Linked DNA regions of Homo sapiens: region 2 is linked to region 1. A link means that fine-mapping ties the variant in region 1 to the plasma level of a protein whose gene starts in the linked region. Region 1 holds a variant in brackets. A gene starts in the other region. All regions are shown on their reverse strands. Region 1 overlaps THADA (THADA armadillo repeat containing). Region 2 holds the start of RETN (resistin).

Evidence for each region. A credible set is the group of variants that fine-mapping cannot tell apart. PIP is the chance, under the fine-mapping model, that this variant and not a neighbour inherited with it causes the effect. Protein levels are from antibody-based Olink assays in UK Biobank. Linkage for the fine-mapping came from a reference panel and not from the study's own genotypes, which makes the PIPs less certain.
Region 2: RETN starts here. The variant in region 1 is the best candidate, but not a certain one, in a credible set for the plasma level of the RETN protein (UK Biobank, PIP 0.66).

The regions. Positions count from the first base shown.
Region 1 is chr2:43,327,607-43,343,112 of GRCh38, reverse strand. The region is part of intron 30 of THADA (THADA armadillo repeat containing); the gene reads left to right. Among named protein-coding and RNA genes, the nearest start is that of LINC01126, 110 kb to the right of the region's middle. RefSeq lists an enhancer at 6,036-6,125. The variant T/C (reference allele first, on the strand shown) is at 8,481.
Region 2 is chr19:7,658,474-7,673,979 of GRCh38, reverse strand. It overlaps RETN (resistin), which reads right to left and starts at 4,931. Exons shown (of 4, transcript NM_020415.4): 1 at 4,859-4,931; 2 at 4,536-4,663; 3 at 4,082-4,159; 4 at 3,525-3,761. The coding sequence starts at 4,653. The coding sequence ends at 3,631. It also overlaps the pseudogene RPS27AP19.

The DNA of each region.
Region 1 (15,506 bases):
AAGGCTCTAGTGAGCTGTGATTGCACCACTGCACTCCAGACTGGGTGACAGAGTGAGACCTTGTTTCAAAAATAAATAAATTTCTGATGCTTAGAGTTTGAGAAACAAACAAGTTGAAAAAAAAAGAAAAAAGTATATTGGCTGTCTAAAGTAGAAGCCTCTCTTTTTTATTTTTCAAAAAGTGTGCTTTTGGTCACTTTTGTTGGGCTCTTACCTTCTGTGGCAAGTCAAGTAATGGGCTGTGTGAGGCTCTCAAATCAGTTTAATTCAACAAAGCATTGTTGAGCACAGGCTACCTGCTAGCCTTTGTGTTAGGAGATATAGGGATACAAAAATATAAAAGAGCTAGTCCTGGCTCCAGGGACTTCCAGGAAGTGAGAAAGACGTGTATAAATAATTTTCATCTGGTATATTAAGTATTATAACAAATGTCTGTAGTAGGTACAGCATTACGCCAGAAGAGGGGTGAGAGAGGGCTGACATCAAACTGGCCATCAAGAGTGAGCCAGAATTTTGCCAAGTGGCCAACACAGGTAGGGGAATTCCAGGCTTAGGTAACGGCATAGGCAGAGACACAGCAATATGAAACGGCACTGTAGGTTTGCAGAACCATAAGGAAGTTAGCCCTCTGGAACCTAAAGTGTAAGGCACAAGTGGCAGAGAATGGGGCTCAGGAAATATGCCCAGGCCACACAGTGAAAGCTCCTGTAAGAAACCTTTTGGTGAAGGAGCCAGCGGTGGATTTCCCAATGTGTGGATGTGTGTATCTCAATTATTGTCTCAACATTAATAGCTTTGGATAGGGATATTGATGGAGAAATTATCTTGTGTCTGAAATGCCGGTAAAGTTATTGGGAGCCTCTCATTTTTAGTCTGTTAGTCTATTCTCCCTTTTTTTAGACAGGGTCATGCTCTGTCACCCAGGTTAGAGTGCAGTGGCGCTACCACGGCTCACTGTAGCCTTGACCTCCTGGGGCTGAAGTGATCCCTCCGCCTCAGTCCCCTGAGCAGCTGGGACTACAGGCACACGCCACTATGCCTGGCTAATTTTTGTGGGGTTTTTTGGTGGAGAAGGAGTTTCAACAGATTGCCCAGGCTGGTCTCGAACTCCTGAGCTCAGGTGATCCACCTGCGTCGGCCTCCCAAAGTGCTGGGATTACAGGCATGTGAGCCACTGCACCCAACTTGTTTTCTCCATTTTATTTAGAGAGTAGGAGTTGCTTACCCATGAAGTGTTTACCCACGCCTAGTACCATTTGCCTTCTGTGTGGCTCTTAGCATCCCAAAGATACATATCACATCAGTACCCTCAGCTGTTTGCCAGGTAATAGGCCACTTCTTCCTACCTGTTATTTCTGGGGATCAAGAAGTCAGAGCTGTCCAGAAATTATCCTCTGAAACCTGCTTCTAGCCAGGACTGTCCCAAGTATCCTAACACTCTAGTTCTTAAAGTGCTGTAAGGAAGGAGTTTCTGCCCCCTTAGCTTGCTACTCCTTCATGCATCTCGTAGAAAGTCATTATCCACTGGCTTCCTGAGTCCATTACCTCTTGTTGGATGAGATGGAGGAGATGGAGCGGCAGGCCAGCCATTGAGTGGACCTTCATGTTGTGCAGTGCCTGAAGATGGCTGACAAAGCTGCCATCAGCTTCCTCTGCAGCTAAGAGGAAGGGAAGTCCTCCTGGCCTTTTAAAACCTGTCCTGTGGTCCCTATTGCTGTTTTCTAATTGGGCTTTCCATTCTCATTCCCTCTGCTCCCCACCCCACTTCTGATTTTTCTCCATGATTTTCCAGCTCTAGAAGACAAAGGAATGAATCACTGCAATTTACTGGGTTTCCACCTTCCTTGCCCAGAATGTAGGACAGCCACTTTTCTGTTTCCAGTACAGTCAACTCTCTATTATCCAAGTGTGAACTTTCCGCTTTGTGGGTGGTCTGTAAATGGTTCCTAACACCAGGCTTCCTTTTGCTCCCCAGCACACTTTTACAAGTGTTAATCAGAATGTGTTCAGAGCCTGAAATAGAGTTTGGAAGGAAAACATACTGCCAGACAGCACAATGCATTCCAAAGCTATGTATCAGTTTTTCTATATTATCCACATCATTGACAGGATAACTTTGAGGTTCCTAAATAGCAAATTATAGAACTGGGTATAAGTGATGAAGCCTCGGTGTCACATGCCTGCCCTGTCCCTGAGGTCCTCTTGTTCTGGGAGTTGTCTGTCTATACTAGTTAACTCCATGCTCAGACACACCCCCTCTCGTCCTAGCGGTCCCTTCTCAGAACAGACCCCTGTCTTTACTTTCTCACCTGCCTTTCCCATGAAGATATTACAGTGCAGAGTATTCCAAATTCAACTACTGAAGAGGCTTTTTTATGTCCCTGGTAATTTACACATGAAAGAAAAATAAATGTTCCTTTGAGTCTACTAAGGATTTTCTGTATCTTTTGAATATAAGCTATGAAAAATTAATGTTTTTGCAAAGAAAAAAATGTTGCCTTAAATTTTAACACCGACACCCTTTTCCTTCCCTAATTTATTTGATCATTAGCCTGAGTTTCTTCAGTCCCATAAGTACAAAAATGCTAGTGGATATGTATTTGTCCTTTTGTTCTCAAAGAAAGTTTTTAAAAAATTGATTGGCACTATTGGATAACCAATTCAGTCTTTAAATTTTGACTCTGAAATTGAGGGAACATAAAATGAAGACTTTTGTCCTATATTTGTGTTTTGACTTTGCAAGATTAATAGGGATTTATATGAGGTGATTAAGCAATAGCCATGGAGTTGTTGGGGAATTTTTGGTGATGAGTGGTCAGCTGGCAACATGGCTTCAGGAAAGGACTGGGCTTCTGCTCTTACAGGCTGCTTTTCATTCCAGGATGTCAAAGCCTTAATGGAAATCAGCTCATTAATCCTTCAAGTCCTTTCCTTCCTGTTTTCCTCCACTCCTCCCTTCTTGATCCAGTTTACTGTCTAAAGCAGTTTACTAACTACTGAAAGAAAACTAAACTGACCTAGACCAGAAACGAAATGAGAGTAGCCGTCTAGTAGGGATCTGCTGCTGTCCTGGAAAGGATGGCAGTGGGCATCATGAGAGAGGAATCACCCAGTCTGACACTCATGCTAATTACAAAAACTTTTTTTTTTAAGTTTTTTATTTATTTATTTATTTTTTAGTTTTAGAGATGAGGTCTGGCTGTGTTGCCTATGCTGGACTTGAACTCCTGGGCTCAAGCAGTCCTCCCACCAGAGTCTTCCAAGTAAGCTGGGATTACAGACATGAGCCCCATGCCCTGCCACCCTTGCTGCTTGCAGATTCCAGCTCAGCTGTCCCAGCTAGATCGCTTATTTACTTTGGCTAAGAGTTGTAATTAGTATTATATTAGGCTTAAACTTTTCAGAAGTGAATTTGGCTATCTAGTTTCTCCTTCTTTGGTTATAAAAGGAAAAAAATAAGTGTGTATGTGTATGTTTATATATTGCATGTGTGTTTCTTTTGGTAAACTTAGTGAACTAAATGGACTAGTCAGGGCTGGGTGCGGTGGCTCATGCCTGTAACCCTAGCACTTTGGGAGGCCAAGGTGGGTGGATCACATAAGGCCAGGAGTTTGAGACCAGCCTGGCCAACATGGTGAAACCCAATCTCTACTAAAAATACAAAAAATTAGCTGAGTGGTGGCACACGCCTGTAGTCCCAACTACTTGGGAGGCTGAGGCATGAGAATCGCTTGAACCTGGGAGGCGGAGGTTTCAGTGAGCTGAGATCATGCCACTGCATTCCAACCCGAGCAACAGAGAAAGACTCTGTCTCAAGAAAATGAATGAATGAATGCATGCATGCAGTGGATGTGATAACCAGAAATAAATATGTGCCCTACTAAAATTTTTTCACCGTTTTCCCCTTCATTGTTGTGTGCTGCTATATGCTTATCATAGAAAATTAGTCAAGTACAAAATTTGGAAGAGAGTAAAAGTCTATTCTTACCACAATCCATAAATCACTATTATTGGTTAAGAGTTGTATGTAATTCCTTCATCTTTTTTCCTATGCTTTTTTTTAACTTTGTCAAGGCTATACTGTATATGTAAGTTATAGCTTCCTTCCTTTTTTCACTCGATAGTATCATGAGAGCATTTGTTATTATTTCAAACTCTTTGTGATACAGCTACTGTGGAAAACAGTATGATATTTCCTCAAAAAATTGAAAATAGAATTACTATGTTAATCCAACAATTCCACTTTTGAATACATACCCAACAGACTTGAGAGTGGGGTCTCAAAGAGGTTTCCATAGCAGCATTATGCACAATAGCTAAAACATGGAAACAGCTCAGGTGTCCATTGATGAATGATGAATGGATAAACAAAATGTGGTATATACATACACCAGAATATTACTTAGCCTGGAAAAGGAAGGAAATTCCAACATATGCCACAACATGGATGAATCTTGGAGAAATTATGCTAAGCGAAATAAGCCAATCACAAAAAGACAAATACTATATGATTCTGCTAATACAAAGTACATAGAGTAGTCAAGACCTAGAGACAGAAAGTAGAATAGTGGTTGCCAGGGGCTACAGAGAGGAGGAAATGGGGCATTGTTTAATGGATATAGTGTTTTAATTTTACAGAATGAAAAGGGTTCTGGAGGCTGGGTACAGTGGCTTAGAGCTGTTATCGCAGCACTTTGGGAGGCCGAGGTGGGCAGATCACTTGAGGTCAGGAGTTCAAGACCAGCCTGGCCAACATGGTGAAACCCATCTCTACTAAAAATACAAAAAATTAGCCAGGTGTGGTTGCGCACACCTGTAGTCCCAGCTACTTGGGAGGCTGAAGCAGGAGAATCGCTTGAACCTGGGAGATGGAAGTTGCAGTGAGCCGAGATCGTGCCACTGCACTCCAGCCTGGGCAACAGAGGGAGACTCTGTCTCAAAAAAAAAAAAAAAAAAAAGTTCTGGTGATTTGTTACACAACAATATGGATGTGCTTAACACTAGCAAACTGTACACTCAAAAATGGATAAGATGGTAAAGTTTATATTATGTATATTTCATCACAATTTAAAACATTTTAATGGAAAATATTTAAAAGAAAATATACCCCATCATTCATCTGAAGTTATCATTGTCTTGACATTTTATGATAATTATTTCTTTGCTTTTCTTCCTAGTTTTACCACCTGTGCATCTCTAAAAATAAAATACTTTTGCCTATTTTTCAATTAAGAAAAAAAAACTTTGAAAACATCATTTTTGAAGGTAGCATATTTTTGTCACCTGAATAATTACTCATTAAATTTACCTAACCATTGCTGGCATACAGTTTGTTTCCCATTTGTTTAGTGTCGTAGATGATGTTTCAGAAAAATCTTTGTACATGAGTGTGGTGTGTGTGTGTGTGTGTGTGTGTGTATGAGTGTGTGTGATTGTGGGTTATTGCCTTAGGTTTGATTTCCAGAAGTGGAATAAATTGGTCAAGGGGAAATGGAAAAAGTCTTGGTATACACTGCCAGATTGTTTTCTAAAAAAGTCCATCTGCCTACCAACAGTGCGTGAGAGACCTCCACCAAAATTTTAACTAAGATATAAAAAATTCAGTTGAGGAAACTTTTACGTTTTGAATGCTTACTCTGTGCCAAGCTTCGTATGAGGAGATTTGTAAATATTATTTCATTAACTCTTCTCAAAACTGCCTTAATATAAAAAAATCTTTTCTACAGTGAAAACAACTGGGGAGACACACCACATGCCTCACAGCCATTTTAGTTAACATTTCAGCTTGGCATGAGTTAACAGATAAGTCAAACGGGTACAGATTGTTCTTCAGTTTTTACTTTCTATATTACCAAACAGAGATGGCCCTGCGTTAGCATTTTGTTTTGTCTTCTTTAAAAGGGGTCTTCCCCTGGACCCTCCCTGGGGTGCTGCTCAGGCCCAGGCCTGCTGTGCAGTGTCAGCCAGAGGGCTCAAACTGACAGTGCATTCGGGTCAGATTGGCCATAGTTGTGTTTTGTTTGACTTGTGGAGGATTTACATTTCTTTTTTTAAATAATTTGCTGACATTTTAAACTGAGGAAATTTCATAGTAAATCAAGATCTACAGCTTCTTTTGAAAAACTGGAAGATCTGGCACCACCAGGCTCAAATTCCCACGTGGCCACAATGGGCCAGAGCTAAGTCCCAGCCATCCTCCCTTGATGAGTATACTCTGTGCTTCTGCACGGCCCCCGCCCAGCCGCGTCTCTCATTAGGTTACCTGAGCTCCCATGGAAACAGGAGTTTGTATCCCTTGCTATTGGCATTTATTAAGTAGCAGATTGGCTGATGCTAGTTCTTAATGTTCATGGCTGCGTTTTTAGAATCATCTGGAGAGGTTTTAAAACCTGTGATGCCAGGCCTTACCCTCAGAGTTTCTGATTCAGATATTTCAAGTTATCTCACTGGCCCTCAGAAGTACCATTTAAACCTGATACTGTGGTGTGGTTAGTGGTTGATTGTTGTGGAGGCTTATGGCACTTCAAAAAAAAAAAATTGGGGACGAGTGCAGTGGCTCATACTTGTTACCCCAGCACTTTGGGAGGCTGAGGCAGGTGGGTCACCGGAGGTCAGGAGTTCAAGACCAGCCTGGCCAACATGGCGAAACCCCATCTCTACTAAAAATACAAAAATTAGCCAGGCATGGTGGCATGCACCTGTAGTCCCAGCTACTCGGGAGGCTGAGGCAGGAGAATCACTTGAACCTGGGAGGCGGAGTTTACGGTGAGCCGAGATCGCGCCACTGCACTCCAGCCTGAGCGACAGAGTGAGACTCTGTCTCAAAAACAAACAAAAAAAAATGGTTTTTTTGAGAGACATGGTTTCATTCTGTCACCCAGCCTGGAATGCAGTGGCATGGTCATAGCTCAGTGCAGCCTTGAACTCCTGGGCTCAAGTGATCCTCTCACCTCAGCTCCCAAGTAACTGAGACTATAGGTGTGTGCCACTGGACCTGGCTAACTTTTTTTTTTTTTGAGATGGAGTCTCACTCTGTCACCCAGGCTGGAGTGCAGTGGCATGATCTCAGCTCACTGCAAGCTCCACCTCTGGGGTTCACGCCATTCTCCTGCCTCAGCCTCCTGAGTAGCTGGGACTGCAGGCGCCCGCCACCACACCCGGCTAAGGTTTTGTATTTTTAGTAAGATGGGATTTCACCATGTTAGCCAGGATGGTCTCGATCTCCTGACCTCATGATCCACCTGCCTCGGCCTCCCAAAGTGCTGAGATTACAGATGTGAGCCACCACTCCTGGCCCTTTTTTTTTTTTTTTTTTAAAGTAGAGACAGGGGCTTGCTCTGTTCCCAGGCTGGTTTAGTACCCCTGGCCTTAAGTGATCCTCCTGCCTTGGCCTCCCAAAGTGCTGGCATTACAGACATGAGCCACCACACTCAGCCCAGTTTTTTTAAGTTGAAGCTTAAATAGAATAACTATCCCTGTATTACTTCATTCAACAAATACCTATTGAGCCCTGCTGTATGCCAGGCCATATCAAATACTACAACTGTATATTAAAACCACTACTTCAGTGTAAAGAGAGCAACAGAACAGAGTCTTATCAAATCGAATCATTGACCTAGAATTTTAGAACTGGAAGGAATCTCATGAAGTTTATTGTATTAAGAGTCTACTCTCACCCCTGTACATGTGGAGTACTACAGCCCACAGAGGCTGGAGGATTTATCCGTTTTCACACAGTTCACCAGAATTAACATCCTACCTGACAACTACTATCATTTGTTGAGGGCTTAGCTCCCGGCACCTTACTGGGCTCTTTGTACTTGACCACACTGCCTCCATCTATCCAGTGTTTTTATGTGAGGGTTTTGCATGGCAGTAATTTAAGCCTTCTCTAGAACAGTGATTCTCAGAAAGAAAATGTGCACGTGAATCACCTGGGAATCTTATTAGAATGAAGACTCTCATTCACTAGGTCTGGGTGGAGCCTGAGATCCTCCATTTTGACCAGCTCCCAGGGGACAGAGTACGTACCTTGAAGAGCCAGGGTCAGAGTGCCAGGCTCTGTGATCTTCCAACTCCCCCATTTGAAACAGTCCCATCCCCATTGCCTCATTCTCAAGGGCTTGTGGCTGAGCTTGGAGCTACAGGAGAGGGCTGAGGCTACTGAAGGGATCAGCCCAAGATTCTCTCCCTACCCACCTGGGATCACCTGTGTTGAGGGGCTTCATGGCCCCAGGGCTCTCTATGGGAAATCCATACTCCGTTGTCTGGGCCGCCATCCCAGTGGCCTCAGTGCCCTGTATGGGACCAGTGTTTTTTTTGTTTTTTTTTTTGTTTTGAGACGGAGTCTCGCTCTGTCGCCCAGGCTGGAGTGCAGTGGCGCGATCTCGGCTCACTGCAAGCTCCGCCTCCCAGGTTCACGCCATTCTCCTGCCTGAGCCTCCCGAGTAGCTGGGACTACAGGCGCCCGCCACCACGCC[T/C]GGCTAATTTTTTGGGACCAGTGCTTTGTTGGCATGCAGTGTGTTTATCATTTTTAAAAATAACAGTCTGATATTCTGGTGAGAAAAACAGGCTCTCAGAAATACAAGACCAGGTTCCAAGGTTACAAGGAAAGCAACCTTGGGAATAAATTTTTTGCATAAAACAGTGCTGATGAGGGGAAGAGATGGTAGAGGGAGCTAATGTTTGTTGAAAGCCTGCTCAATGTACCAGACCTAATGACTTGCTACCCCAAGTTAATTCTAATAATCTATCCACTTCCCTGTCCAGCTTTCCTGTAAGTGCCCTTCACACCCCCATGCAGTCCTCCATGTGCCCTTTCATGTGTGCCTCGTCTGCTTCTCCATCCCCCTCATCCATACTCCAGTCACTTTCCTGTCTCCTCCCCTGTCACCCCCTATCCATACTCCCATCTATTCTCCTTTTTCTGTCTTACTTACTGGACCCCACTGAGCTGAGTGGTGTGCTCCTGAAGGGCCTGTGGATTTAAGTGTTTAAGGAAAATATGCTTATAGAGACAAAGCTGAGGCTTTTGTGTGGCAATCCCAGTTCTTCCCTAGGGGGTCTGTGGCTAACTGCAGAAGTTCTGGTGTAGGATTCTATTTTGCTTTACAACAGCTGAAAACAGCATTTATTTTCTCACCACCAAATTTATTCACACAAGAGACTTACACTTCCCAGGCAGAAATACTGGGTTTTAGGTCTGCTTCCATTTTCCCACTGTCCTTTAGCTCCTTCCCAAATCCCTCATGGGCTGGTCCCCTCCTGAAGAAAGAGATCCTTCTTTTGCAATGACTTGAAATAGAAAGAGGCCACAGCCTTTTGCCACAGCTGCAAGTTGCTGTTTCACTTCCATGCCGTTGAAATGAATCCAGTCCAGGATGATTGTTAAAATATTCAGATGATCATGTGGCATTTTAAGGCTATCATTTGTGGTCCGTGCCAAAACTTTAAGGGAAGCAAGTCTTAACAGGGATCGCTAGCCACAGAGCAAGTTTCCAGGCATTGCTAGGGGTTATGTTTTGCCTTTTGGTTTGTTTCTTTTCTTTCTCTCGTTTTTTCTTCTTTCTTTCTTTCCTTCTTTTTTTCTTTCAAAAAAAAGGATCCTCCTTTTTTTAATTTTAGAAAAAGTTATTTTTTTTTTTTAGGAAAAAAATGGAAGAGGTAGTAACTGCTTTTCAATTCCTAGATTTTACTGGAAGAGAGAGGTTCTCATTAGGACCCGTCTTTAATCCTCCAGCACAGCTTGTTCAAAGTCACATGAGCCTCATGCAGATTTGAATGATGAGAGAAATGAAGTTGGTATATTTTAAACCCAAGCATGCTGACATATGTTCACTTCCCTTTCAGACGTCTCAGGAATGTCTAAGGTCATGATATCTCCGGATGAGATCCTGTTTGTGTTTTTTAAATACAAAAGGAAACATTATCGTATTTCAACCCAAGCCAGTGGGACAAGGTGCAAAACATTTTCTTCATTAAATATCCCTTTTACAAATACAGCCTCAAGTTTTAAAGGAATAAGCTGTTTGAGGAAGAGTGAAGTTTGAAAATATATGAAGTATTTCTTGTTGACAGACTGAGCTTATGGAAACGAGTCTGGGTGAAAACAGTCAGAAGTGATCAATATATTATCCTGGGCCCTTGAGCAAGTCGTCCAAGATCAAAGCTTCTTCATACCGCAGCGAGAAATAAAAATAGTCCTTTTACGCAACTGCACACACACCAAGAATTCAACCCCCAACTGCTGATGCTTTCTACTTTTTAAATATAGAAATCTGCAAACCTAACCTGGAGATGGCAGTTAGTTCAATAGAGGGCTCAGAAATCTCTGTCTTGTTCCACTTGTAGCTGTTGGCTTACTGGGGTGTTGCTGTTGGAAGATTTGGACAATGTTGTCATTGCTCAGCTTGCAAGGGAGTGCAGGCTTTAAGTGTCTTCAGCACATTCTCATAATATTATGTAAAGCCCTAATGTAGTGGGTTATGTTTTTTCCTTTAGCATGTAACATCTTCCATCTTTTGGATAAATTAACACCTTTGTTACCTTCATTGAGCCATTCTCAGTCAATTAAAGCCAATTCAGAGTCACAAATATTACAAGACAATGGTTTAGGCACAGTGGGAAATATATGAATGAACGATAATTGTCTCTGTTTCAGAAACCCCACAAGTAAGACAAGTATGGATTTAAATAACTATAAACAAGATTGTGTCAATGCTAGAATTAGTCAAAGTGTGTTGCAGAAGCAGAGAAGGGAGAAATAAATGCCAGCTTGTCAGGGTAGGGGTGTCAAGGAAGTCTTCAGGAAGAGGGAGAAGTCTTTAAAGGATAGGTGAGTTTAATTATTAGATAAGGTTAATTTTTTAGCATGGTGGCATGGGCCTGTAATCCCAGCTTCTTGGGAGGCTGAGGCACAAGAATTGTTTGAACCTGGGAGTTGGAGGTTGCAGTGAGCCAAGATCGTGCCACTGCACTCCGGCCTGGGTGACAGAGCAAGATTCTGTCTCAAAAAAATAATAATAATAAGATTAATTGTCTCAGATTGGAGACTGAGTAAAGTTACACTTGTATAGTACCTTTGTTGCCAAGTAAATTGTGAAGGTCTCATTGCCCAAGTACACAAAAGGTATCTTAGTACAGCGCCCAGCATTGTGGGAACCTAATGTGTGTGTGTGTGTGTGTGTGTGTGTGTATTAGATATATATAATGGAGTCTTTGTTGTCAGAGTTCAGTTATGGTTGAATCTAAATGAAAATTTAGACAGTGAAATACATAGAAGTACATACAGTAAGTACAAGAGTTCAGAAAAGAATGTGGACTAAGATAGTCAAGGAAGGCCTTATCAGAGGAGTTAGATATTTGAGATGGGCGGTAGAGCAGAGTGTGATTTGGAAACACCAAAAAGTGGTAGGAAAAGAGCATATCAAGATGGTGGACCAAATGTGCAGTGGGATACTGGAGGGAGTGCATGTGATGTATCATGGGCCAGTGAGGAGATCAAGCTGAGGGAAAGCTGCTGTGCTTTAGAGAGCAGTGCAAGATTTGATAAGAGACCAGTTGTGGAAACCCTCAGATGTCAGCCAGAGGAATATGGACTGGATCCAGGAGTTAAGAGGAAGTTAGTGAGCTCTGGCTGACACTGGTAAGTAGGCTGCTGTCTATATGCACATGAAATGCACTAAATGCTTTACATCTTTCCAACCTCGCTTAGTGGTCATCAGAGTTTCTAGTCTCTCTTAAGGATTAACAGAAATCTCTCTATTAGCAGTCCTTGTCACCTGGAAGCCCCTGTTGCCTGCCTGGGCAGCTAGTAATAGGAATAGAGATATCTGTATGCACTTGAGACCACATAGGTTTTGTCTTTCCAATGTTGCTAAGAGTACCATAGAACCACAGAATTTATAACAGTAAAGGGAATTTAGAGATCGTCTAATCCAGTGGAATTCATTCTTCAAACAAGCTTATGTGGAAATTCAAGATATTGAAAATAGTAGAGATGGTTTCAATATGGTCTAAACTGGGGTGGGGGCCCGGAGACCCACCTGCATGGCTTCCTTCCTGTTGGTAGCCCCAGAAGGGACTAAGAGAAGCACCCTAACTCCCTATTTCAAAACAGTGATCTAATCTAAGCTGATATTTGTAGAAGAGGTAATAGACACGGGGGCAGGCGACTTCTTCCTACTTGAAAGATATGGCTGTCTCAGAAGATGGCTCAAATTAGGGATGTAAATAGCAAGTTTGTTTTTTGCCTCTTGACCTGCTTTCTTCCTCTCCCGAGGCCTGATCATCCTTGTGGAAAATTCTACAACTCCATGTCCTTGGGCTGCCAAGGGCCCTCTCTTAGGAGCTGCCTTCCATGGATAGGGCTTCATGCTCCAGACCTTCTTGCCATCAAAACTTAACTATTCTATATCCCTTTTCCTCACTCTCAGCTGGCTGGCTGTCCCTAAATTTTAATATGTAAATAAGTTTGTTCTCCCGGGTCACACAGCTGTTTTCCAGTAGTGACCTGGTAGAGACAGCACCTTTAACTGAAGTCCGTAACTGACGCAGGCTTTACGGCAGTGCGCTGGCCTGGCAGGAGCACATCTGCCCTCATATTAAGCTGCTCAGCCCTGATACATTTGTCCCGTGTGGCTGGGGTTTCGGCCACCTCCACAAGGGCTGTGGGCAGCATGAGCTGGTCTTACATGAATGGGCCAAGGGAGCATCTTGGAGAGAGGCCCTCCTAAGTCTCACTAGCCTTTCCTTCCCCTCAGCTGCCAGTGATGATCAGGCTTCCTCAGCAATTAGACTGGCCTGGGTGCCTCTGGGAATAACACCTTCCCACGCAAGCTCAGGGGCTCACTCTAGGACTCCCCAAGCCAGACGGGTCCTCACCAGTCCGCAGGCTCTGCGTTCCTGGGTAACCACAAGGAGAGTCACATCTAGAGGCACTTGGTGAATGGAAAGCCTCTAGCCAGAAAACACAGTGCAGTGCCATTGAGGAGAGGCAGAGAATACTCAAGGTTAGCAAGTCAGTGGTCTGGCCTCTGCTGGACTACTGCCCAGCAAGGTGTGGCCTGTAATTTCCTTAGGCCTGAGTTTTCATCTGTAAAGTGGGAAGCTCTAAAATGAAGGTGTGAAATAGAGGAGACCAGGGGAGGGCATAGTGAGTAATGGAAGTGTAAACATAAAAGTGCTAAGAAGATACGGGAACTATCTATTGTCAAATAACGAAGTCTCTATCAACATAATCGCCACGTTGAAAATGTGCCTTTATGCTGGTCCTCACAGAAACAGCTGCACTTGGAGCCTTGCTTTTCACCAGACTGGCTACCAGGATATAACACCAGTCTACGTGGTTTCTAATTGCTTGGCCCAATGTCTCACTTTTCACCTGATTGTGTTTGGGACACATAGATACAATTTGTTTTCTAGAAAACCTTGATTCTATTCTTGGTTTCTGCCCTTGTCTTGGCTAGGTCACTTGAGCTACTTTGTTGATTTATAAAAATGGGAATGATAATTTCTATTTTTCTTCCTTCTTAAGAATTTTATAAAGATAAAATAAGAATACTTTTTAAAGAGAAAACTTTTAATATAATAAGATGTTGATATTGTTATTATCATTCGTACTATTTTTACCAGGGCTAATTTCCAAGTGTGTGCCTTGCCAAATTCACATGACCACGGTCCTATTGACGGTGCTGTTAGAAATTCTCCCCTTGTGATTTACATAGCTCAGGCAGCATCCAGAAGATTTCATCCACCTCACCTATTTATCCTTTTTTATGCTTTTAGGGAGAAAGTAAGGTTTGAAAAGAAAGGGGACTTGTGTTAACATTCTATATAAGATTTGAAGCTATATATCTTCCAAGCCCCAAACTGTACAATAAAAGTTTTCTTGGATACTACTTTTCTCCCATAATTCCTAGCACATAGTTTATTAAGTTATTAACCAGCAATTACTCTGGCAGCATATTAAACTTTACTTTTAAACAAGTCACAGAGGGAGGGAAACACGCATCTCTCGTAAAAGGAATAAAAAACATACACCCTCTAAAACAGTTTCCCCAGGCTTTGAACAAATCCCAAGCCCCACACCAAGGTCTCTTTTTCATCATTCTCCGCACATAGCTTGAGTGTTAGTACAGTAATGAGAACAAGATGCCTAATAGAAAGATGGAAAAATATGAGGATTCTGGAGGCTCCCTGGGGGCTCTCTGGAAAGGCAGGTGATTAATATTAGGAGGGAAAGGCAAAGGCATGGCATTGAAGCTGTGGGCTTCCTCCAGCAGCAGCAATCCTAAGGGAAACAGAGGAGGCTGTGGCTTTGGCCCTAACCTAAAAAGAGGACCCCAGTACCTTTTGCAGACTGCTGGGGCCTTGCTGAATGCCTACCCAGAACCCTGGTAGGAGTGGGTAAGGCCCTCTGCTTTCACAGATTACATTCCCCAGGATCCAAACCTGCTCTTCCAGGGAAAGCCCACTGTGCTCTGCAATGCATAGCTGGACCTTCAGTCACTTTCTGGACAGACTAACAGCTCACGGTCTCTCACTTTGTGCATGGTAGCTCAGTAAGAATTCCGTATAAGTTGGTCCACCACCAGAGCAGGGCATGGAGGATGGCTTCACTTTAAAAGGAAAATCCAAGTAGGAGGGCTGTGGGGCAGCATCTACATATGGCTGTGAGTATAAACACTCACAAAGCTCCAGACCAAGAAAGGCAGGATGGATGTTGGGGCATACCATAAAAATGCAACTCTGCCGTCACACCTCCCCCAGGGAGGGCAAGGTAAACGAGCAGTCCTGGTAGCCAGCCAGGCCCTACAAGCTTCTGCCAGCTGGCCCTGCATGCACAGCTAAACTCTCCATGTTACAGTGGGGGAAATGACTTGTTTAAATATATATATTCTACAGTTCATCACCATTTTGCATTTTGATTTAAACAAGTCCCCTATTGTTTGTCTAAGAGTGCCATATGATGGTTACTTGGCTGGGGGCCATGGTAAAAATTGGAAATCGGAATGGCAGATGTGGGTTCTTTTTATTTAATTTATACTTCCACATTTACATGGCTTAATGTGGCCTCCATCAAAAGAAGTACCTCCTAACTCCTATCCACAGGATATAGCCAAATATAAGGAGAGGCAGTATCTGGTCCATGGACAGCTGTTACAATGATGTGAAGTGCTCAAGACTACAAAGATGGCCAGTGGGATCTCTGGGAGAAGGGGAAGCTCAACAAAATATCCTGGGTTCAGACAGCCATTCAGCGTATCCTCAGAGGTAGTTGTCTGGATCATTAGAAAAGTAATCCTCTAGAAATAGAGGAGGGGCTTTGAAGTGAGTTGGTTTTTAGGGGGGTTTGTTGTTGTTATTGCTGTTTGAGATAGGATCTCACTATGTTGCCCAGGCTGGTCTTGAACTCCTGATCTCAAGCAATCCTTCCATGTCAGCCTCCAGAGTAGCTGGGATTATAGGTGCCTGTGCCACCTAAACCCAGCTTGAAGTGAATTTTA
Region 2 (15,506 bases), not on the chromosome of region 1:
CCCTGGTTCCAAGCCATACCTGAACCTGTTGTTCTAACCCTGGGCTTGTCAGTTACACAAACAAGAAACTTCCTTTTAGTTTTGCCCAAGCTAGTTTGAAGTGGGGTCTGTTGTACTTGCAAGCAGAAGAATCTTGCCTTGGCTGGTCTCTGTGGCCCACGCCTGTAATCCCAGCACTTTGGAAGGCCGAGGCAGGTGAATCACTTAAGGTCAGGAATTTGAGACCAGCCTGGCCAAAATGGCGAAATCCCCGTGTCTACTAAAAATACAAAAATTAGCCAGGAGTGGTGGTGGGCGCCTGCAATCCCAACTACTCAGGAGGCTGAAGCAGGAGAATCACTTGAACCTGGAGGTGGAGGTTGCAGTGAGCTGAGATCGTGCCACTGCACTCCAGCCTGGACAACAGAGTGAGACTCCATCTCAAAAAGGAAGAAGAAGAAGGAGGAGGAGGAGAAGGATGAGGAGGAGGAAGGAGGGAGGGAGGAGGGAGGAGGGAGGAGGATATCTTGCCTACCACAGGGGATCTAGGCATTAGCTATTGAGGAAATTGAGGCTCTAATAGGGGGTTTGCCTGTCCACATCACCTGGGCAGATATGACCTCCAAGTCTGCACTCTGGGGCAGGAGAATGTCTATGTTGGAATTGAGGAACCTGAAGAGAGCCCTCTTAGGTTTCAGATACAGGACTATTGGATGGGGGTGGAGACAAATAGTTCTGGGGACAATGGAGCATCCCCGCCCCCAACACACACACACAGCAGTAAGGGGCAGGGACACACACAAGGCACTAGACTCACCCTCTCTGGCCCTGGCCATGCTTCTAACTCAGTGGTCCTGCCCTACCCCCATGACCACTGTGGAGTCAGGAGAGAGGGTCTGGGAAGGGAATCCCTGGGCTGGAGTCTGGGTGGGGTCCCTGGCACCAGAAGTGGTTGTAATCTCTGCTCATGGCCACCAGCATCAGACAGGGGGCTGGGACCATCACAGGGGGTGGGTGGCAGTGGGAGGAGAGTCCAAAACATCCTGCAAACCAGAACCTCACTCTATCATCTGTTGTCCAGGTGTGACATTTGAGTCTGGGATCCCTTTCAAGACTAGGTGCTAGGAATTCTGAAGTCTGTGGTGGGAAATCAGGGACTGGATGGCAAGACTCCTGGGTCAGGCTTCCTGTAGAACTGGACCCCGAATCACCTGAATTTGTGCCCCAGGGAGCTGAGGCGGGGGATGCTGAGGCTTTTGCCCACTAGAACAGGGGTCCCCAGCCACCGGGCATTGGGAACGGGGCCTCACAGCAGGAGGTGAGTGGTGGGCGAGCGAGAGAAGCTTCATCTGTATTTACAGCCACTCCCCATCATTCGCATTACCACCTGAGCTCCACCTCCTGTCAGACCAGCAGCAGCATTAGATTCTCATAGGAGCAAGAATCCCATCGTGAACTGCGCATTTGAGGGATGTAGCTTTCTCACTTCTTATAAGAATCAAATGCCTGGTAATCTGTCGCTGTCTCCCATCACCCTCAGCTGGGACCATCTAGTTGCAGGAACACAAGCTCAGGGCTCCCACCGATTCCACATTATGGTGAGTTGTAGAATTATTTTATTCTATATTACAATGTCATAATAATAAAAATAAAGTGAATAATAAATGTAATGCGCTTGAATCACCCAGAAACCATCCCCGCTCCCCCCCTACCCCATACACACACCAACTGTCTTCCATGAAAACAGTCTCTGGTGCCAAAAAGGTTGGGGATCGCTGCACTAGGGTATCAGATACTTATCCAGGTGCAGTGGGGACTAGAGTCAGAAATGCAAGAGTCTGCCTGGAGCATGTGTGTGTTTGTGTCCTGCATCATCTCTGCCCACCATAGTCAAATCTGCGATTCTCCGTGCATTGGCCGGGGGGGTGGTGCCTTTCTGTGTCCAAGAGTGTCTAGGGGCACATGGGTGTGTCTGTGGATGTGGTGTCTCCATGTGGCCGTGGTAGGTGGGTTGTGTACTCTGTGTGTGCACGTGGCTGTGTATAGCTGTGTGTGCATGTGCAGTATGTGCACGTCGGTGCTGTATCTAAGTGCACATGTGGCTACTGATCAACAGACATTTACTGAACGTCTACTGTGTTCCATGCTCTATTCTAAACCCTGGGGGCGCTGGGTGCAGTGGCTCATGCCTGTAATCCCAGCACTTTGGAAGGCCGAGGTGGGTGGATCACCTGAGGTCAGGAGTTTGAGACTAGCCTGGCCAACATGGTGAAACCCGCTCTCTACTAAAAATACAAATTAGCTGGGCATGGTGGTGGGCACCTGTAATCTCAGCTACTTGAGAGGCTAAGGCAGGAATATCACTTGAACCCAGGAGGCAGAGGTTGCAGTGAGCCGAGATTGTGCCACTGCACTCCAGCCTGGGCGCCAGAGTAAGACCTTGTCTCGAAAATAAAAATTAAAAAATAGGCCAGGCGCGGTGGCTCATGCATGTAATCCCAGCACTTTGGGAGGCTGAGGCGGGTGAATCGCTTGAGGCCAGGAGCTCAAGACCAACCTAGCCAACATGGTGAAACTCCTTCTCTACTAAAAATACAAAAATTAGCCAGGTATGGTGGCGAGCGCCTGTAGTCCCAGCTACGTGGGAGGCTGAGGCAGGAGAATCGCTTGAACCCAGGAGGCAGAGGTTGCGGTGAGCCGAGATTGCACCACTGCACTCCAGCCTGGGCAACAGAGCGAGACCCTGTCTCAAAAAAAAAAAAAGAAAGAAAGAAAGAAAAGAGAAGAGGGGAGAGGAGGGGAGGGGAGGGGAGGGGAGGGGAGGGGAGGGGAAGGGAAGGGAAGAAACGAAACCCTGGGGGGGATCTAGGAGCAGACAAGTCCCCTGCTCTGTGTTTTCATAATCTAGTATCCAGGAAGGGGTAAGCACCCTGCGTGTATCTGGTTGTAACTAACTACTCACAACTGCACTTGCCTGTGTGAAAACGTGAGCTTGTGATGATGCGTGACGTCAGGTAGGCGTCCCTGACTCTCCGTAACCCAACTTTGCCTGTGCCTTGGGGATTCCTCCTTGCAGGTAGGAAGTGAGGGGTACAGGTTCCAGCTCTGGGCTGAGACATGATTCAGGGTTCCACCCTGACCTGGGGCTCCTGGAGTCTTGGGGCCCTGGAGGGTCCCGTCCACTGCCCAGACTGACCCAGGTCCTCGATGAAGCCTCATTATGAGGACTGGGGGAAAAGGACCCAGCCACTTCCTGGGGAGGTCGGAGACCCCAGGGTGAGCGTCAAGGTAGCCTCAAAGATGAGACGTCACCTCTTGAAGGCAGCCATGAGCCTTGGGTGGGGACGTCACTAGAGGAAGTTCAGGCCCTATTTTCGGAGGAAGCAGTTGGAGACCCCATAGGAGGAAGGGCGATGGGGCAGTAGAAAGTCGCGGTGTCCCCGCCCCCTCCAGCAGCTACGCGCCCCACTCTCTTGGAGACGCTAGATCAGTCCCTCCGGGCCTACTAAAGAAACCACGCAGGGCTCAGATCCGCTCCATCATCATCATCATCATCATCATCATCATCTCCAGGTTTATTTCCAGCTCCCCCGCAACCCCTCCGGACCTGGAGCCGCCTCCGCCCGCGCTGTGCACGCGCTGCGCGCGACCTCAGGGCTGCACACGACAGCAGCGCGCTCCGGTCCAGTCCATGCCCGCGCACTGGCAGTGACATGTGGTCTCGGCGCGCACATCCCACGAGCCACAGGCGGAGCCACAAGTGCAGCCGGTGACGGCGAAGCCTGCAGCCCGGAACACAGGAGCGTGGACTCTGAGCTGGGAGGCTGAGGGTGGGAGCGGGAGGGGGGTGGGGAGCGCGGAGGGGGGTTGGGGGGGCGGGGGTGGGGACGGGGACGGCTGGAGGCTCCAACCACTGAATGGGCACTGGAGGCAGGGAGTGAGGGTGGACACCAGTGTCCAGATGGTGGGCGGAGAAGGCTGGGAGTCAGGACCAAGATCCTAGGGGAGTAGAGGCTGGACACGGGGAACGTGGCGGGGAGGGGGCATTCCCAGGGGACTTGGAACAGAAATGGGCGCCTGGACAACAGTCTCCTGCACTCACCTCGGGGGCAAGTAGCCAGGTCCCCCCTGGAGGTGACGCTCTGGCACTCCAGGCCAATGCTGCTTATTGCCCTAAATACTGGGGGGCAGGAGGAAAGGAGACAGGGGGAGCTGTGAGACCAAACGGTCCCTCCCCCATCCTCCCCTAGCCCTGTTGGTTTGGAGCTAGGTCCCTGTGGGCATAGGAGCTCACTGGCCTCCAGGACCCTGTCTTGAGTTGGGTGTTTTGGAGTAAGGGAAGGTTTGGAGTGAGAGCGGGGATTGGGTTTGGAGCCGTGGATAAGGTGGGGACAGTCGGAGGGGTTGGGAGTGGAGTTGGGGTTGAATTTATGATCTGGTTGGATTTGAGGATGAGATTTGGTGAGCGCTGGGGCTGGGTTGGAGTCAGGTCTGTGCCAGGGATCAGTGAGGTCTCTGAGACCCTTGGGGAGCTTGCCCAAGTGGGGGGTCCTCACTTAGGGAGCCGGCGACCTCCTGGATCCTCTCATTGATGGCTTCTTCCATGGAGCACAGGGTCTTGCTAGACACCAACAGCCCCAGGACAGGGAGGAGGAGGAGACAGAGAGCTTTCATCCTGCAGGCGCTGAAAGAGGGAACCAAGAGACCCACAGCTGGATCAGCCCTGCCCTGTGGGGAAGATCCGGCCCATGGAGGGAGTAGGATCTGCCCCTGGACCTGGACCCCTGTCCCCCCATGTGGGGGACAGGGATGGAGGCTCAGCCTTGACCCCAGCCTCCCCGCTGGTGCCATGGCAAGCGCAGGAGCAGCTGTCACTTACCCTCTCGGTGGGCTCAGCTAACCAAATCCGGCACACGAATTCCTGCACCGCAGCTCTTTCTTTGAGGCCTCTTGGGGTGGGGCTTCCTGGCTTGGCTAATAAGTCCCTGGGCCCCCAACCCTCCGGTCCCACATCCGGGGCCAAGAGGAAGCCCCTGAGCAGACAGTAAGGGCTGGAGGAGGAAGGGAGCCTTCCCACTTCCAACAGGGCCTCCGTCTTCATGTCCAGAGACTGGTCAGGAGGTGGTGCCCCAGGGATAATGCCAGGGGCTGTGGTCTGAGGAACAGGTAGACAAGCAGAGTTTTGCATGCAAGGGTGGCTGATGCAAACATGACAAAATTAATGCCTCTTGCTAGGCATGGTGCGGACAAGCACTTGTAGTCCCAGCTACTAAGGAGGCTGACGTGAGAGAATTGCTTGAGCCCGGGAGTTCGAAGCTACAGTGACTTATGATCACAGCACTGCACTCCAGTCTGGGCAACAGAGCAAGACCACTTCTCTAAAATAGTAATAATAATTATGTCTCTGGGTGAGAATGACATACCACATTCATACCCAAATGCCCATGAGCAATAGAACTGGTAAATAAAATCATGGTTTATGGCCGGTGGCTCACGCCTGTAATCCCAGCACTTTGGGAGGCCAAGGCGGGCGGATCACTTGAGGTCAGGAGCTTGAGACCAACCTGGCCAACATGATGAAACCCTGTCTCCATTAGACATACAAAAATTAACTGGGCGTGGTGGCGTGTGCCTGTAATCCCAGCTACTTGGGAGGCTGAGGTGGGAGAATCACTTGAACCCGGGATGTGGAGGTTGCAGTGCACTGAGATCGTGCCCCTGCACTCCATCCTGGATGACTAGCTTGGGCACCATAGCAAGACTCCATCTCAAAAAGAAGAAAGAAAAATCATGGTTTATTCCATCAATGGCATCACCTGCAACAGAAGTTGGAAAGCCATTGCTCATGGGCCAAGGTCCAGCTCATGTTTCTTCTTGGACCACCCATGAGCTTGGAATGGTTATTACATTTTTATTTGTTCTTTGTTTCCAGTACAACGGGCCTTTTTGTGGTAAAATACATATAACATACAACTTACCATTATAACTTACTTTTTTCTTTTTTGAGACGGAATCTTGCTCTGTCGCCCAGGCTGGAGTGCAGTGGCGCGATCTCGGCTCACTACAAGCTCCGCCTCCTGGGTTCACGCCATTCTCCTGCTTCAGCCTCCCAAGTAGCTGGGACTACAGGCGCCTGCCACCACGCCCAGCTAATTTTTTGTATTTTTTTTTTTTTAGTAGAGATGGAGTTTCACCGTGTTAGCCAGGATGGTCTCGATCCCCTGACCTTGTGATCTGCCCGCCTTGGCCTCCCAAAGTGCTGGGATTACAGGCGTGAACCACCGTGCCCGGCCTTTTTTTTTTTTTTTTTGAGACGGGGTCTTGCTATGTTGCCCAAGCTAGTGTCAGACTCCTGGCTTCAAGTAATCCTCCCACCTTGGACTCCCCAGTAGCTGAAGCTACAGGTATGCACCATCTTGTTCCATTTTAACCATTGCTTTTGTTTGTTTCTTTGTTTCAGAGTCTCACTCAGTTGCTCAGGCTGGAGTACAGTGGCTCAATCTTGGCTCACTGCAACCTCCACCTCCTGGGTTCAAGCAATTCTCCTGCCTCAGCCTCCCGAGTAGCTGGGATTACAGGCGTGCACCACCATGCCCGGCTAATTTTTTGTATTTTTAGTAGAGATGGGGTTTCACCATGTTGGCCAGGCTGGTCTCAAATTCCTGACCTCAAGTGATCCACCCGCCTCAGCCTCCCAAAGTGCCGGGATTACAGGTGTGAGCCACCATGCCCAGCCTATTTTAACCATTTTTCAGAGCACAATTCTGTGGCAATAAGCACATTCATGTTGTTATGTAGCCACCACTGCCGTCCATCTCCAGAACTTTCTCCTCTTTCCAAACTGAAACTCTGTCCCCATGAAACACTCACTCCCTATCCCTCTCCCCAGCCCCTGGCACCCTCCATCTTGCTTTCTGCCTCTATGGATCTGATGACTCTAGGGACCTCCTAGGAGTGGAATCACACAGTGTTTGTCCTTTTGTATCTGCTTATTTCACTGAGCATAATATCCCCAAGGTTCATCCCTGCTGTAGCCTGAGTCAGAACTGTTTTCCTTTCCATGGCTGTATCACATTCCCTTGTGTGGATGAACCACGTTGTGTTTATTCCTTCATCCATCGATGGACACTTGGGTTGCTTCCAGCTTTTGTTTTGTTTTTTTGTTTGTTTGTTTGTTTTTGTTAGTTCACGTCTTTTGTGGGTTTTCTTTCTTTTTTGAGATGGAGTCTCACTCTGTTGCCCTGGCTGGAGTGCAGTGGCACGATCTCGGCTCACTGCAAGCTCCGCCTCCCGGGTTCACTCCATTCTCCTGCCTCAGCCTCCCGAGTAGCTGGGACTATAGGCGCCCGCCACCATGCCCAGCTAATTTTTTTGTATTTTTAGTAGAGACGGGGTTTCACCATGTTAGCCAGGATGGTCTCGATCTCCTGACCTTGTGATCCGCCCGTCTCGGCCTCCCAAAGTGCTGGGATTACAGGTGTAAGCCACTGCGCCTGGCCGTCTTTTGTTAATTCATACAGTTATTTGTCTTCTGGTTTGTTGAAGCAGTAAGTCAGACAACATTTGCCACAATAATGTCTGTCAAAGTGGCTTGCCATAAACACTGCAGCACCACATTCATCAGAAGGGCAACCTCGACGAAGGTGACTAATTTTGCCATTCTCATCCACCTTATAATATTTCAGGACAGCCAGCTTCACCTTCTTTCTCTTGTGCTTATTCGTCTTGCAGGTAAGACTTCTTCTTCTGGCCGGGCTCAGTGGCTCAGGCCTGTAATCCCAGCACTTTGGGAGGCCGAGGCAGGTGGATCACGAGGTCAGGAGTTCAAGACCAGCCTGGCCAACATGGTGAAATCCTGTCTCTACTAAAAATACAAAAATTAGCTGGGCGTGGTGGCACGTGCCTGTAATCCCAGCTACTCGGGAGGCTGAGGCAGGAGAATTGCTTGAACTGGGACCCGGGAGGCAGAGGTTGCAGTGAGCCGAGATTGCACCACTGCACTCCAGCCTGAGCTACAGAGCGAGACTCCATCTCAAAAAAAATAAAAAAAAGACTTCTTCCTTTCCTTAGCACCACCACGAATTCTCAATACAAGATGAAGAGGAGACTCCTTTTGAATGTTGTAGTCAGACAGAGTACGCCCATCTTCCAGTGCTTGTCTTTGCTGATCAGGAGGAATTCTTTCTTTACCCTGGATCTTGGCCTTTACATTTTCTACCATATCTGAGGGTTCAGCCTCGAGGGTGGTGGTCTTCCCTGTAAGGGTTTTCAGGAAAATCTACATTTTGGTGGCGGCTCCACCACAGATGGCGGATCTAAAAGGTTTTTGTTTTTTGTTTTTTTGAGACAGAGTTTCGCTCTTGTCACCCAGGCTGGAGTGCAAGTGGCACGATCTTGGCTCACTGCAACCTCTGACTCCTGGGTTTAAGTGATTATCCTGCCTCGGCCTCCGAGTAGCCAGGATTACAGGCATGTGCCACCACCACACCTGGCTAATTTTTTTTTCTTTTGTATTTTTAGTAGAGATGGGGTTTTGCCATGTTGGCCAGGCTGGTCTCAAACTCCTGATCTGGAGTGATCCGCCTGCCTCGGCCTCCCAAAGTCCTGGGATTACAGGTGTGAGCCACTGTGCCTGGCCTGCTTCTGCCTTTTGGCTATTGTGAATAATGCTGCTCTGAACATAGATGTGCAAATATCTGTTTGCAGCTCCTGCTTTCAATTCTTCTGGGCGTATGTCCAGGAGTAGTGCTGCCTGATCATATGGTAATTCTATGTTTAACTTTTTGAGGCACTGCCAATTTTCACATTTTTAAACCATAGGGAAAAAAAAGTTGTTTTTTTTTTAAAAAAGACACAGTCTGGCTCTGTTTTCCACGCTGGAGTGCAATGGTGCAATCATAGCTCACTGCAGCCTCAAACTCCTGGGCTCAAGCAATCCCCCCCTCATCAGCCTCTTGAGTAGGTGGGACTACGGCATGTGTCACCACACCTAACTAATTTTTTTAATTTTTTTGTAGAGGTGGGGTCTCACTCTATTGCCCAGGCTGGTCTCAAACTCCTGGCCTCAAAAGATCCTGCCACCTTAGCTTCCCAAAGCACTGAGATTACAGGCATGAGCCACTGTGCCTAGCCAAAAAATATTTGTAATGTTTAGTGAAAATAGAAATCATATAAAATTCAAATTCATATAATTTTCATAAAAAGTCCATAAAGAAAATTTTCTTAAAACATTGTCAGCTGGGTGCGGTGGCTCATGCCTGTAATCACAGCACTTTGGGAGGCTAAGGCGGGTGGATCACCTGAGGTCAGGAGTTCAAGACCAGCCTGGCCAATGTGGTGAAACCCCATCACTACTTACAATACAAAATTAGCCGGGTGTGGTGGCACGCGACTGTAATCCCAGCTACTTGAGAGGCCGAGGCAGGAGAATTGCTTGAACCCGGGAGGTGGAGGTTGCAGTGAGTCAAGATGGTGCCCTTGCACTCCAGCCTGGGCAACAAGAGCGAAACTCTGTCTCAAAAAAAAAAAAAATTGCCAAGCTCAGTGGCAGGCACCTGTCATCCTAGCTACTTGAGAGACCAAAGCAGGAGGATTGTTTGAGCCCAGGAGTTTGAGGGCAGCCTGAGCAACATAGTGAGATCCTGTCCCTACAAACACACACACACAGTTTGCTACCCCCTTTTTTTTGAGAGGGAGACTCGCTCTTGTCACCCAGGCTGGAGTGCAGTGGCACGACCTTGGCTCACCGCAACCTCTGCCTCCCGGGTTAAAGCGATTCTCCTGCCTCAGCCTCCCGAGTAGCTGGGATTATAGGCAGGTGCGCCACCATGTCCGGCTAATTTTTGTATTTTTAGTAGAGATGGGATTTCGCCATGTTAGCCAGGCTGGCTTCGATCTCCTGATCTCAAGTGATCCGCCCGCCTTGGCCTCCCAGAGTGCTGAGACTATAGGCATGAGCCACTGCACCTGGCCCCATTTTTTAATATATCATCAGTGACTGCTATCACATGTCCATGGCAGAGCTCAGCAGCTGTAGAGTGGTTGGACAGTAGGGCCCCCAAAGCTGAGAATGTTTACTATCTGACTCGTTACAGAAAACATTTTTTTGTACCCCTGGTATGTGGTGATGAGTGAGAATGAGACAACTGTCCATGGATTACAGCTACACCCAACCATGTGGCTGATTCTCACGAACATATGTTAGCATAGAAGCCAGACCCCAAAAAGAACATACCATACAAATCCATTTATTAAAAAAAAAGGGGGCCGGGCGCGGTGGCTCCTGCCTGTAATCCCAGCACTTTGGGAGGCCAAGGCAGGCGGATCACAAGGTCAGGAGATCAAGACCATCCTGGCTAACACGGTGAAACCCCATCTCTACTAAAAATCCAAAAAAATTAGCCGGGCGTGGTGGCAGGCACCTGCAGTCCCAGCTCCTCGGGAGGCTGAGGCAGGAGAACGGTGTGAACCCGGGAGGCGGAGCTTGCAGTGAGCCGAGATGGCGCCACTGCACTCCAGCCTGGGCGACAGAGCAAGACTCCGTCTCAAAAAAAAAAAAAAATACCTAAAAATACAAAAATTAGCCAGGTGTAGCGGCAGGTGCCTGTAATCCCAGCTACTCGGGATGCTGAGGGAGGAGAATCGCTTGAACCAAGAGGTGGAGGTTGCAGTGAGCTGAAATCATGCTACTGCACTCCAGCCTGGGCAACAGAGAGAGACTCCGTCTCACAATAATGATAATAATAATAAATGAAATACAAACAAAACTAATTTATGCTGTCGGAAATGACGATGGAAGAGTCCTGGGGAATCAGAGATAGTGGTGATAAAAGCATACCAGGAAGGCCCCTAGTGAGGGGGGAATTTTGTAAAAGTTTTCAGCTGTAACTCTCATTTGCACAATTTTCTCTATGTATTTATATTTCAATCAACATGATGCATGTGTATTAAAGCCCTGTGTAAATGCAACGGTGCACACAGGTTCAAAGCGCAGGCAATATTTATTGAGCAACTATTATGTTCCATATGCTGTGTTAAACACCATGCATACACTAAGAAGCAGAGGGATGCTGCCCTTGCCCGGGACGAGTTGGCCCTTGTCAGTCAGGGAAAGGCAGACACCAACAGAACAGCAATAAAAAGGCCGGGCAATGGGCCAGGCGCGGTGGCTCATGCTTGTAATCCCAGCCTTTTGGGAGGCCGAGGCGGGTGGATCACCTGAGGTCGGGAGTTCGAGACCAGCGTGACCAACATGGAGAAACCCCTTTTCTACTAAAAACACAAAATTAGCCAGGCGTGGTGGCACACCAGGTGGGTAGCTGTAATCCTAGTTACTCGGGAGGCTGAGGCAGGAGAATTGCTTGAACCCGGGAGGCGGAGGTTGTGGTGAGCCAAGGTTGTGCCATTGCTTTCCAGCCTGGGCAACAAAAAGCAAAACTCCATCTCAAAAAAAAAAAAAAAAGTCCGGGCGCCATGGCTCACACCTGTAATCCCAGTGCTTTAGGAGACCGAGGTGGGTGGATCACTTGAGCCCAGGAGTTCAAGACCAGCCTGGCCAACACAGTGAGACCCTCCCTCTGTACAAAACGTAAGAAAACATTAGGCAGGGATGGTGGTGGCTTCCTGTAGTCCCAGCTACTCAGGAGGCTGAGACAGAAGTACCGCTTGAGTCCAGGAGTTGGAGACTGCAGTGAGCTATGATCGCACCACTGCACTCCAGCCTGGACAACAGAGCAAGACCCCATCTCTAAAAAAAAGAAAACAAAAAAACAACAACAAAAAACACCAATAGAATGCTCAATCAGCCATCAGCCTCAAGGACCCTTCCATCTCCCAAGGAGAGGAACCCTTTTCCGTGAGAACCTCTGACCTAAAAATCAACCCCACATGGGGGAATCCAGAAAGTATTTTGGGGGGAGGAAAAGATGTTTGAAGGGAGGGTGGAGGATGCAGAAGGGTTAACCAGGAGAGGCAGTTAGGGAGGGCCTTCTGGGTGGAGGGAGAGGACTGCATGTTCCAAGGACCTGAGGCAGAATGGAGTGTGTGTATTTAGAGGAACTGAAAGCAAATTTGTGGGACAGGGGATCTAGAGGGGAAAAGTGAATTCCACAGGCTCCCTGTCTCTTCTGGTCCTAGCAGGAACTTTCAAGTCCGTTTTTGTCCAGATATTTCCCCATGCTCAAGTCCCAGCTCATCCTGCCTCCTTGAAGACATGACTTCTGTCTCTTCTTGAGCTACTCTTTGACACACCCTGGACAAAGGGTAGCTTGAAAAGAGACAGAAACCATGTTATTGCCAGGTGCAGTGGCTCACGCCTGTCATCCTTGTGCTTTGGGAGGCTGAGGCAGGAGGATCGCTTGAGGCCAGGAGCTTGAGACCAGCCTGGACAACATAACAAGACCCCATCTCTACAAAGATAAAAGGGAAAAAGCCGGGCGCAGTGGTTCACGCCTGTAATCCCAGCACTTTGGGAGGCCAAGGTGGGCAGATCACCTGAGGTCAGGAGTTCGAGACCAGCCTGGCCAACATGGCGAAACCCCGTCTCTACTAAAAATACAAAAATTAGATGGGCGTGGTGGCGGGCACCTGTAATCCCAGCTACTCGGGAGGCTGAGGCAGGAAAATCACTTGAACCCAGGAGGTGGAGGTTGCAGTGAGCTGAGATTGCACCACTGCACTCCAGCCTGGGCGACAGAGTGAGCCTTGGTCTCAATCAATCAATCAATCAATCAATGGAAAAAAATTAGCTGGGTGTGGTGGTCCATGCTGGTAGTCCCAGCTACTGAGGAGGCTGGGGTGTGAGGATCACTTGAGCCCAGGAAGGCTGAGACTGCAATGAGCTATGATGGCATCACTGCACTCCAGCCTGGACAACAAAGCAAGATCCCGTCTCAAAAAAAAAGAAGAAAAAGAAAAATCATTTTTTGAGAGCTCTGATTTTCAAACCCTTTGTTCTCAGAACTCTTCGGGTAAAACCTTTTGAACGACACAAAAGGAGTGGGCAGCTGTGATGACAGATTGAGGAGAAAGCAGGGTAGGCATGGAACCTCTAGGGTTCCCTAGGGACCCAGTTTGAAAACTCTTGGTTCAGTAGCAGGAAAAGGCAATATGCCCCTTAATTCTCTTCTAAAACATAAAATCCTTTAACTTCCTCTGATTTCTACCAGTAAAACTGAGCTCTACTGACCTCAATTTTGTACCAAATGCTATCTAATAAAATCCCAGAAACAGTGATTTTTGAAAAATCCATTTTGTTGATGTGTAATTTACATACAGTAGAATGTGCCTATCTTATGTGTTTGGTTTCATGCATTGTTTTTCTTTTTCAACTTTTTAAATTTTTTTTTTTTTTTGAGACAGGGTCTCACTCTGTTGCCCAGGTTGGCGTGCAGTGGCACAATCTCGGCTCACTGCAACCTTCGCCTCTCGGGTTCAAGCAATTCTCCTGCCTCAGCCTCCTGAGTAGGTGGGACCACAGGCACGCGCCACTACACCCAGCTAATTTTTGTATTTTTAGTAGAGACAGGGTTTCTCCATGTTGGCCAGGTTGGTCTCGAACTCTTGACCTCAAGTGATCCACCCACTTCGGCCTCCCAAAGTGCTGGGACCACAGGCACACACCACCACGCCCAACTAATTTTTGTATTTTTCATAGAGATGGGGTTTCACCATGTTGCCCAGGCTGGTCTCAAACTCCTGGCCTCAAGTGATCTGCCTGCCTTGGCCTCCCAAAGTGCTGGAATTACAGGCATAAGCCACCATGGCCAGCCCTCTTTATCAACTTTTATTTATTTTTTCATTTTTTTGAGACGGAGTCTCGCTCTGTTGCCCAAACTGGAGTGCAGCGGTGCGACCTCAGCTCACTGCAACCTCCGCCTCCCGGGTTCAAGCGATTCTCCTGCATCAGCCTCCCAAGTAGCTGGGATTACAGGTGCCCGCCACCACGCCCATCTAATTTTTGTATTTTTAGTGGAGACGGGGTTTCACCATGTTGCCCAGGCTGGTCTCGAACTCCTGGCCTCAAAGCGACCTGCCCGCCTTGGCCTCCCAAAGTGCTGGGATTACAGTTGTGAGCCGCCGCGCCCGGGACCCTCTTTATCAACTTTTATTTTAGATTCAGGGGATACCTGTGCCAGTCTCCTACCTGAGTATATTGCATGATGCTGAGGTTTGGGGTATGAGCGACTCTGTCACCCAGATGGTGAGCACAGCACTCAACAGTTAGATTTTCAACCCTCATGCCCCTTTTCCTCACCCCTCCCTGGCAATCCCCACTGTTCATTATTGCCACCTTTATGTCCATGAGTACCTGAAGTTTAGATCCCACTTATAAGTGAGAACAGGCAGTCTTTGGTCTGCTGTTACTGAGTTTGATGCATTTTGACAAATGTGTCTACCTGCCTGCTGCACGTTTTGGTTTTCCCAAGAATTATTTTCTAAAAATCAGTTTTTATTAAGGTGGCATTTATATACACTAAAATTCTGCACACGATCTTGTAACCATCACCACCAAATACGTATTTATTTATTTATTATTATTTTTTAGAGATGGCGTCTCACTCTGTCTCGATCTCCCACGCCGGGGTGCAGTGGTGCCATCAGAGCTCACTGCATCCTCCAACTCCTGGGCTCAAGCGATCCTCCTGCCTCAGCCTCCTGAGTAGCTAGGACTACAGGCACCCACCACCACCCACAGTTAATTGAAAAAATTGATTCTTCTTTGTAGAGACAGGGTCTCATATGTTGCCAGGATCCTTGGTCTTTGACCTCCCAAAGTGCAGAGATTACAGGCATGCACCACTAATGCCGGGCCAAATACTTGTAATTTAAATTATCGCTGGGCTGGGCACGGTGGCTCACGCCTGTAACCCAGCACTTTGGGAGGCCGAGGGGGGAAGTTCACCTGAGGTCAGGAGTTCCAGACCAGCCTGGCCAACATGCTGAAACCCTGTCTCAACTAAAAATACAAAAATCAGCCGGACATTGTGGCAGACGCCTGTAATCCCAGCTAATCGGGAGGCTAAGACAGGAGAATCGCTTGAACCCGGGAGGCAGAGGTTGCAGTGAGCCGAGATCGCACCATTGTGCTCCAACCTGGGCAACAAGAGCGAAACTCCATCTCAAAAAATAATAATAAAATAAATTATAGTTGGAAAAAAGGGGTTTCCTAAAGACCCAAGGGAAATGGCCTCTTTGTTCCTGAAGCCACAGAGAGGATTTTTCTGCTCCCCACAACTAGTTTTCCTTGTGAAAATTCATAATTGCTACCAGCTTGTTCTCCTCTCTGTCACTATACATCTGTCCTTGAAGCCTTATTTGAACAAAGAGTTCTGGTATCACTCGGATGCCTAGAAACTGTTGCCGTTCTGTGAAACCGACCACCAGAGGAAACCCATGCTTCTCATTGGCTGCCTTACTAAGATGGTGACTTGTTGCCCTGGTGACAAGTTGCAATGACAGGTGGCTCTGCCAAATCAGAACACAGTGATACTTGCTTCCCCTCCCGGGTGAAGGATGGAAAATAAAAG